Linked DNA regions of Homo sapiens. The protein of the gene in region 2 purifies or fractionates together with the protein of the main gene of each other region. This does not show direct contact. Each region holds a gene or a part of one and is shown on either strand. Other genes may lie near its edges.

What was found.
Region 1: the proteins of GRTP1 (region 2) and ATP2A1 purify together in Homo sapiens (affinity purification with mass spectrometry; one large-scale study listed by BioGRID and IntAct). This does not show direct contact.

What each region holds. Positions count from the first base shown.
Region 1 is NC_000016.10:28,891,988-28,895,487, reverse strand, and holds part of ATP2A1 (sarcoplasmic/endoplasmic reticulum calcium ATPase 1), read right to left. Parts: intron 1,334-3,500; coding exon 1,245-1,333; intron 984-1,244; coding exon 881-983; intron 667-880; coding exon 535-666; intron 1-534. UniProt on the Homo sapiens protein: Key regulator of striated muscle performance by acting as the major Ca(2+) ATPase responsible for the reuptake of cytosolic Ca(2+) into the sarcoplasmic reticulum.
Region 2 is NC_000013.11:113,350,631-113,354,130, reverse strand, and holds part of GRTP1 (growth hormone-regulated TBC protein 1), read left to right. Parts: intron 1-2,160; exon of another isoform or gene 2,161-2,458; intron 2,459-3,157; coding exon 3,158-3,282; intron 3,283-3,500. UniProt on the Homo sapiens protein: May act as a GTPase-activating protein for Rab family protein(s).

The sequences.
Region 1 (3,500 bases), on a different chromosome or scaffold from region 2:
GAGAGAAAGAGAGAAATGTGGGGAATATAATTCCCCAGAGAGAAGTGCTTAATGGAGACGTTCAGCAAGTATCAATAGCAATAACTGGGAGTGACAGTCCTAGAAGTGGCCGGGTTCATCTGGGCAAGGAAAGGCTTTCCCTATAGGTGCAGTAGCCACATTTCCCAAATCCTAAGTCAGGACTCATCATCTGCTGAAAACAAGTGTGCTTCTAGAAACAAAGGAATAACAGATGAAGTTGGGGCTGCTCCTGGATGGGTCCCTTGTGGTTTCCGTGTCCAGCTTTGTCCACTTCAAATCAGGACACAGCGGGCAGAAGTGATCATAGATTCATCAAGGGCATGGCCGCCAGGCAGCCCCAGGGACAATGGGTCCCACCCACATCAGCCTGTGGAGAAGCTGCAGGGGCTGTCTGCTGCCTGGGTGGGGTCCCAGCACAGGCACTAGGCTCTGCCCAACCAGGGCCTCTGCCTTCCTCTAGTCTATGCAGCATAGAGTGGAGACGGCCCTGTGGCAGGGGCTCCGCAGGCTCACCGAGTTGCAGGCGTTGGCTCTCTCCACCTTCGAGAGGCTTCTCACATCCGTGTTGAACACATTCATCTTCTCCACCAGGGTGGTGAGTGCTGTCTCGGTGGCCTCGCCGACCTTCTCATAGACACCTTTGGCCTGAGATGGGCAGAGGAGGAAGAGGAAGTCGGTGCCCCAGGCTCCTACCTGTCATACCCTCCTTCCACCTAGCGTAAGAAGGAAGCAAACCACTGCCTCCCTTGCACCCTGGCAGAGGGCTGGGTGTACTGGGTCCCCTTCCTCCAACCCTTTCCTCCTGGCCTTCGGAGGAGGCCCAGACTCTGAGCCAACTGGAAGGGGAAGGAGAGGTTACCTCGTTGAAGTCCAAGGAGGAGTCATTGCAGAGGGCACAGATGGTGGCCAGCTCCACCAGCCCGTCATACTGCCCTGGCCGGACTGGCTTATCATTCTTCAAGCTGGCAGCAGGGTCAGGGGAGGAAGGGACAGAGACAGTGGAGAAGAACAGGGAATGAGATGCAGAGAGGGCACAGGAAGAGCAGGCAGCAGAGGGTAAGGAAGGACAGTGGGGAGAGCCAACTCGGATATCAGGAGAGAGAACAAGGTCGGGGAGGAAGAGGAGAGTGAAAGGAGAGCAAAACCACATGGAGGGCCCCAGGGAGAAAGGGGGTGTGGGAAGGGGCGTGAGGAGCTGGGGAGAAGATGCCTGGGTGACTTACACCTCTCCCTCTGGAGCGTAAGTGGAGCCGGTGATGGAGAACTCATTCAGGAGGCAGATGTCCCCATCCACCTTGTCAATGATAAACATCTGCAGGGGAGAAGGGCAGGCACACAGATGTCCACCTCTTCCCATCCCAAGGTGGGCACCTGCATCAAGGGAGGCCTGCACTGCCAACACCTACCTTCCCACCATTTCCCTCCTACTCACCCCTCCTCATCCCCCCCGTATACCCTACCCACTTCCCACCAAGCTGTTGCAATCATTCTCTATCAACAGCCTTAAAACAATAGTTACTGAGGCTGGGCGAGGTGGCTCACACCTGTAATCCCAGCACTTTAGGAGGCTGAGGTGGGCGGATCACCTGTCAGGAGTGCAAGACCATCCTGGCCAACATGATGAAACCGTCTCTACTAAAAATACAAAAATTAGCCAGGTGTGGTGGTGCGCGCCTGTAATCCCAGCTACTCTGGAGGCTGAGGCAGGAGAATCGCTTGAACCTGGGAGGCAGAGGTTTCAGTGAGCCAGGATCGTGCCATTACACTCCAGCCTGGGCGACAAGAGCCAAACTCAAAAAAAAAAAAAAAAACAAAAAAAAACCCACAAACGAGTGACCGCAGGCTGTGCTGTGCTGGAGCTTCTGTAGACCAGTTAATAAAATAAGATGGAACACAATAAGGTATGGTGGGGACTGTGGCAAACAGCCCAACTATTGGCACCTGGACCATCTACAGCTCCAGCTGCATGTGGCCAGATCTTCCAGTTTTGCAGGAAGAGCTAGAAATTCAGGTTATCTTCCTATGAAATCTCTTGACTTTTTCTTTTTCTTTTTGTTTTTTAAGATAGGTTCTTGCTCTGTTGCCCAGGCTGGAGTACAGTGGTGTGATCATAGCTCATTGCAGCCTCAACCTCCCGGGCTCAAGTGATCCTCCCACCTCAGCCTACCCAAGTAGTTGGGGCCACAGGCACATGCCACCATGCCTGTCTCTCTTGCTCTCTCTCTCTCTCTTTTTTTTTTTTTTTGGTAGAAATTGGGTCTCACTATGTTGCCCAGGCTGGTTTTGAACTCCTGGGCTCAAGTGATCTTCCTGCCTTGGCCTCCCAAAGTGCTGGGAGTACAGGCACCCACCATGATGCTGGGAGTACAGGCAACTACCATGCCCAGCCTCTTGACTTTCAAATATATGGGCAATTCTTTTTTTTTTTTTTGGAGATGCAGTTTCACTCTTGTTGCCCAGGCTGGTGCAATCTCGGCTAACTGCAACCTCCGCCTCCTGGGTTCAAGTGATTCTCCTGCCTCAGCCTCCAGAGTAGCTGGGAGTACAGGCATACGCCACCACGCCCAGCTAATTTTGTATTTTTAGTAGAGACGGAATTTCGCCATGTTGGCCAGGCTGGTCCCGAACTCCTGACCTCAGGTGATCCACTCACCTTGGCCTCCCAAAGTGCTGGGATTACAGGCGTGAGAATTAATTCATTTTTATGAAACATGACAGGAGCCAAGTCACACGAGCCTGTGGTCTGGCTTTGTGGCCTGTGCGTTAGAGGGATGTGGAGAACGCAGTGCCCAGGAGGAGTGGCCTACCCTGAATCCTGGGCAAACGCAACAGAGACTGGGCTTTTCATTCCCGAGAAGAGAGATGGTTAAGATGGGTTCCAAGACAAAAAAGTTCTGTGGTCAGAAAAAAAACTTGGGAACCTCTGGGGCAAAGCAGAATCCGTCTTCTTTACACAGTCAGCCTCCTCTAAGGCTTTCAAATAGCAGCAGATGTTGTGGGTCTCGCCCAGGAGCCAAGGTTACAGCCTTTCTCACCCTGATCTGACCACACAGCCCTTGCTTCTCAGAACAGCAATTTCTAGTTCATGGGTGTAGTCTTCCACAAAACTCTGTGAAGGGCAGGGGTTCTTGGCCTGAGGTCAGTGGAAGACCCTGCAAGGAGCCCAAGAACTGAGATAGCCAAGAAAAAAACGACAGCTTTTCTTGTTCTCAAGCTGACGTTTGACATTTCCTTCCAGTTATGCATGTTGTCAACAGACCACATTAGTATTAGCAAAACCTGTGACTGTCACCAATTTAATCACAGATACTTTCCTCCTATCACATTACCACTGTTGCAGATCTCTCAAAATAGCATAATTTATGCTCACCACTGCTTCAACATTATGATAGTGCTTAGACCCACTGCGAGAACTCCCTAATTAATGCCTTAATAAAGAAGCATGTGTGTTGCCAAATTACAAAGTTGTTTTTAAAAAT
Region 2 (3,500 bases):
AAAATGCATTTAAAGTCTCTGTTTTGTGGTTTTTTGGATGAATTTTTTTATTTTTTATGACAGGTGTCAGTCTGTTACCCAGACTGGAGTGTAGTGGTGCGGTCACAGTGACAGCTCACTTCAGCCGTGACCTACCAGGCTCAAGCGATCCTCCTGCCTCAGCCTCCTGCGTAGCTGGAAGTGGTCTGAACCACAGGTGTGCACCACCACACCTGGCTCATTTTTTAATTTTTATTTTTTTGCAGAGATGGGGTTTTGGTCTTGAACTCCCGGGCTCTGAGGATTCGCCCTCCTTCACCTCCCAAAGTGCTAGGGTTACAGGAGTGAGCCACCCACCTGGCTGAATTGTTTTTTAAATTATGGTAAAATATGCCTAATATAAAATTTACCATTTCATTTTCCCAAGCTGAAGCTCTTGGGAGCTTCCCCATTGTTAAGCACTGAACCCCATGTCCTCACCCAGCCCCTGGCAATCCCGCTGTGCGCTTGTCTCTGTGCCATCCCCATTGTCAAGCACCGACCCCCGTGTCCTTGCCCAGCCCCTGGCAGTCCCACTGTACGCTTGTCTCCGTGCTTTGGCAACTCCAGGGTCACATAAGAGGAGTCCCGTGGGCTGCGTCCTCTGCAGCTGGGGTCCTTTCCCTCGCCTCAGTCCTCAGGGATCCTCTGTACTGCATCTTGTGTGACAATTTCCTCCTTCTTTAAGGGTGAATAATATTCCACGCATGGGCAGACTACATTTTGTTCATTTATCCATCTATCAGTGGACCCCTGGGCTCTCCTGCCGCACGGCTGTTATGGGTGGCATGGCCGTGAGCCTGGGTATGTGGATTCTGCTGGGTCCCTGCTTTCAGCTGTGGGTTCCTACCCAGAGTGTGGATTCTGCTGGGTCCCTGCTTTCAGCTGTGGGTTCCTACCCAGAGTGTGGGGCTGGGCCCCTGCTTTCAGCTGTGGGTTCCTACCCAGAGTGTGGGGCTGGGTCCCTGCTTTCAGCTGTGGGTTCCTACCCAGAGTGTGGGGCTGGGTCCCTGCTTTCAGCTGTGGGTTCCTACCCAGAGTGTGGGGCTGGGTCCCTGCTTTCAGCTGTGGGTTCCTACCCAGAGTGTGGGGCTGGGTCCCTGCTTTCAGCTGTGGGCTCCTACCTAGAGTGGACTCTGCTGGGTCCCTGCTTTCAGCTGTGGGCTCCTACCCAGAGTGTGGATTCTACTGGGTCCCTGCTTTCAGCTGTGGGCTCCTACCTAGAGTGTGGGGCTGCTGGATCCATGACAGTTCTGTGCTTAGTAATTGGAGCCACCTGGTCAGTTATCTTTCAGGAGCCATGCAGTGGATGGTCCAGTCCCACAGAGCCAATGCCAGGCCACGCAGTGCAGACAGAAAGCTCCCATGCTCTTCTGTCTCCACAATGGAGATGGAGCCATCTCCTTTCCCACAGGATGTTATCAAAACATATCAAGAAACTTAGTGTGGTGGCTCACGCCTGTAATCCCAGCACTTCGGGAAGCTGAGGCAGGCGGATTAGTTGAGCTCAGGAGTTCAAGACCAGCCTGGCCACCATGGCAAAACTCTGTCTTTACAAAACAATACGTAAATTAGCCCAGGCATGGTGGTGTGTGCCTGTAGTCTCAGCTACTCAGGAAGCTGAGGTGGGAGGATCGCTTGAGCCCTGGAGGTCGAGGATGCAGTGAGCCGTGATTGCACCTCTGCACTCCAGCCTGGGTGACAGAGTGAGACCCTGTGTTAAATATATATATAAATATATATATATATATAAAATATATATAAATATATATATAAAATATATATAAAAATATATATAAAATATATATAAAATATATATAAATATATATAAATATATATAAAAATATAAAAATATATAAATATATATAAATATATATATAAATATAGAAAACTCAATAAAAATATTACATATAAATGAACACAGCTGGTCACTCTAGTCTGAAATAGCAAAAATACTAACTTCCCCTTGACTGATTCCATTTTTTGGAATGTTTAGAATTCCAGAAAAAAAAAAAGGCTCTTTTGTAAGAAAACACACAATGAGAAATAATGTGCTCTGAGGCATTGAACTAATGTTGGCCCAAATCTAGTTTTTTGTAAGCAAAGATAAGGCCTGGGGCCAGAGGTCGGAAACAGACTTACAGTATTTTGCAGCCGTTGTGGAGAGACCACAGGCGGTTGGGTTCCTCCAGAGCTGGGTGTACACCCATCTCAGCGTCATGGCTGGCGGGGACTGCTGTGAGTCCATCTTGGAACTTGTGCAGAAAGCGGCTGTCTGCTGGTGACCGCATGGGGTGCCTGGCGAACACCTCTAACAGAGGTAGGGCCAGTGGGAGCAGAAACCAGTGGAGTTGTCAAGCCGGCATTATCCTTCCTGCTCGGCTTGTGTCCAGGGTTAACGCGGAGGTCAGCTTCAGTGAGGCCTGGCACTTGGTCAGCGTGAGGCTTGGTTAGTCTCAGGGACCCACGTGGTATCCGGGTCCCCCAGCACTAAACAGCTTGGCCAAGGCCACACTGTCCTGCCAAGAGATGCCTGGGCGGGACAGTGGGAGGGGTTGGTGCTGAGGAAGGAAGAGGCCGGCAGGGATGCCTCCTGCACACACAAGCTGACAACTCGAGGTTTATTCAGTTCTCAGCTCTCAGCTCTCAGCCGTGTCCTTTATCTCTGAGGAGTCTCAATTTATTCTGTCTCCTTCTGTTTTGGATCTTTGAAATTAGGAAAACACCTCAAAGTTTTGTGTGCATTTCTCTCCACCTGTCACCCTGGGTCCTCGAGGCAGAGTTGCCTCCGCTACGCGCGAGGTCCGAGGTGCAGGAGGCCTGTGCTGGGGGCCGGGAGGAGACGGGCATTGAGGAGGGAGTGCCATGGCCTGGCCACCAGCTCTGGGGTCGCTCTGCTGTCCCTGACTCTGCGGGAAGGACGGTTAGGGCCCCTCTCCGCCCCGAGTTCAGGATCACCCCCTCCTTCCTGGCCCAGTGAGCCTGTCGCTCTGGCTGTGTTGAGTCTGCTGTGCGGCCAGGGTGAAAACCAGTCCGTAAGTCCCAAGTGGAACCCAGGTGGCCACCCTCGGGGCAGCTGGAGGGGTGGGAGGCTTGTGGAACAGAAACCCGTGGGTGATTCCTTCTGAATTTCCCACAGACCTGAACCGGACCTTCCCCGACAACGTGAAGTTCCGGAAGACCACGGACCCCTGCTTACAGAGGACCCTGTACAATGTGCTGCTGGCATATGGGCACCATAACCAGGGAGTGGGCTACTGCCAGGTGAGCCTCGGGACCCTCTGACGCCATGAGGTGGCTGTGAGGACAGGTCTGTCCACAGCTGCAGGCTCGGCAGTGACGGCCTCACGTCTCTGTCAACCCTGTTCATGAATTCCACGTCCTGATGCCCCATTGAGGCTCGGACGCCATTTCCCAGCAGGGAGGACAGGGAGCAGCAGCCGACGACCTCATTCCGGCCTCAGGTGGCGGGAGGAGAATCA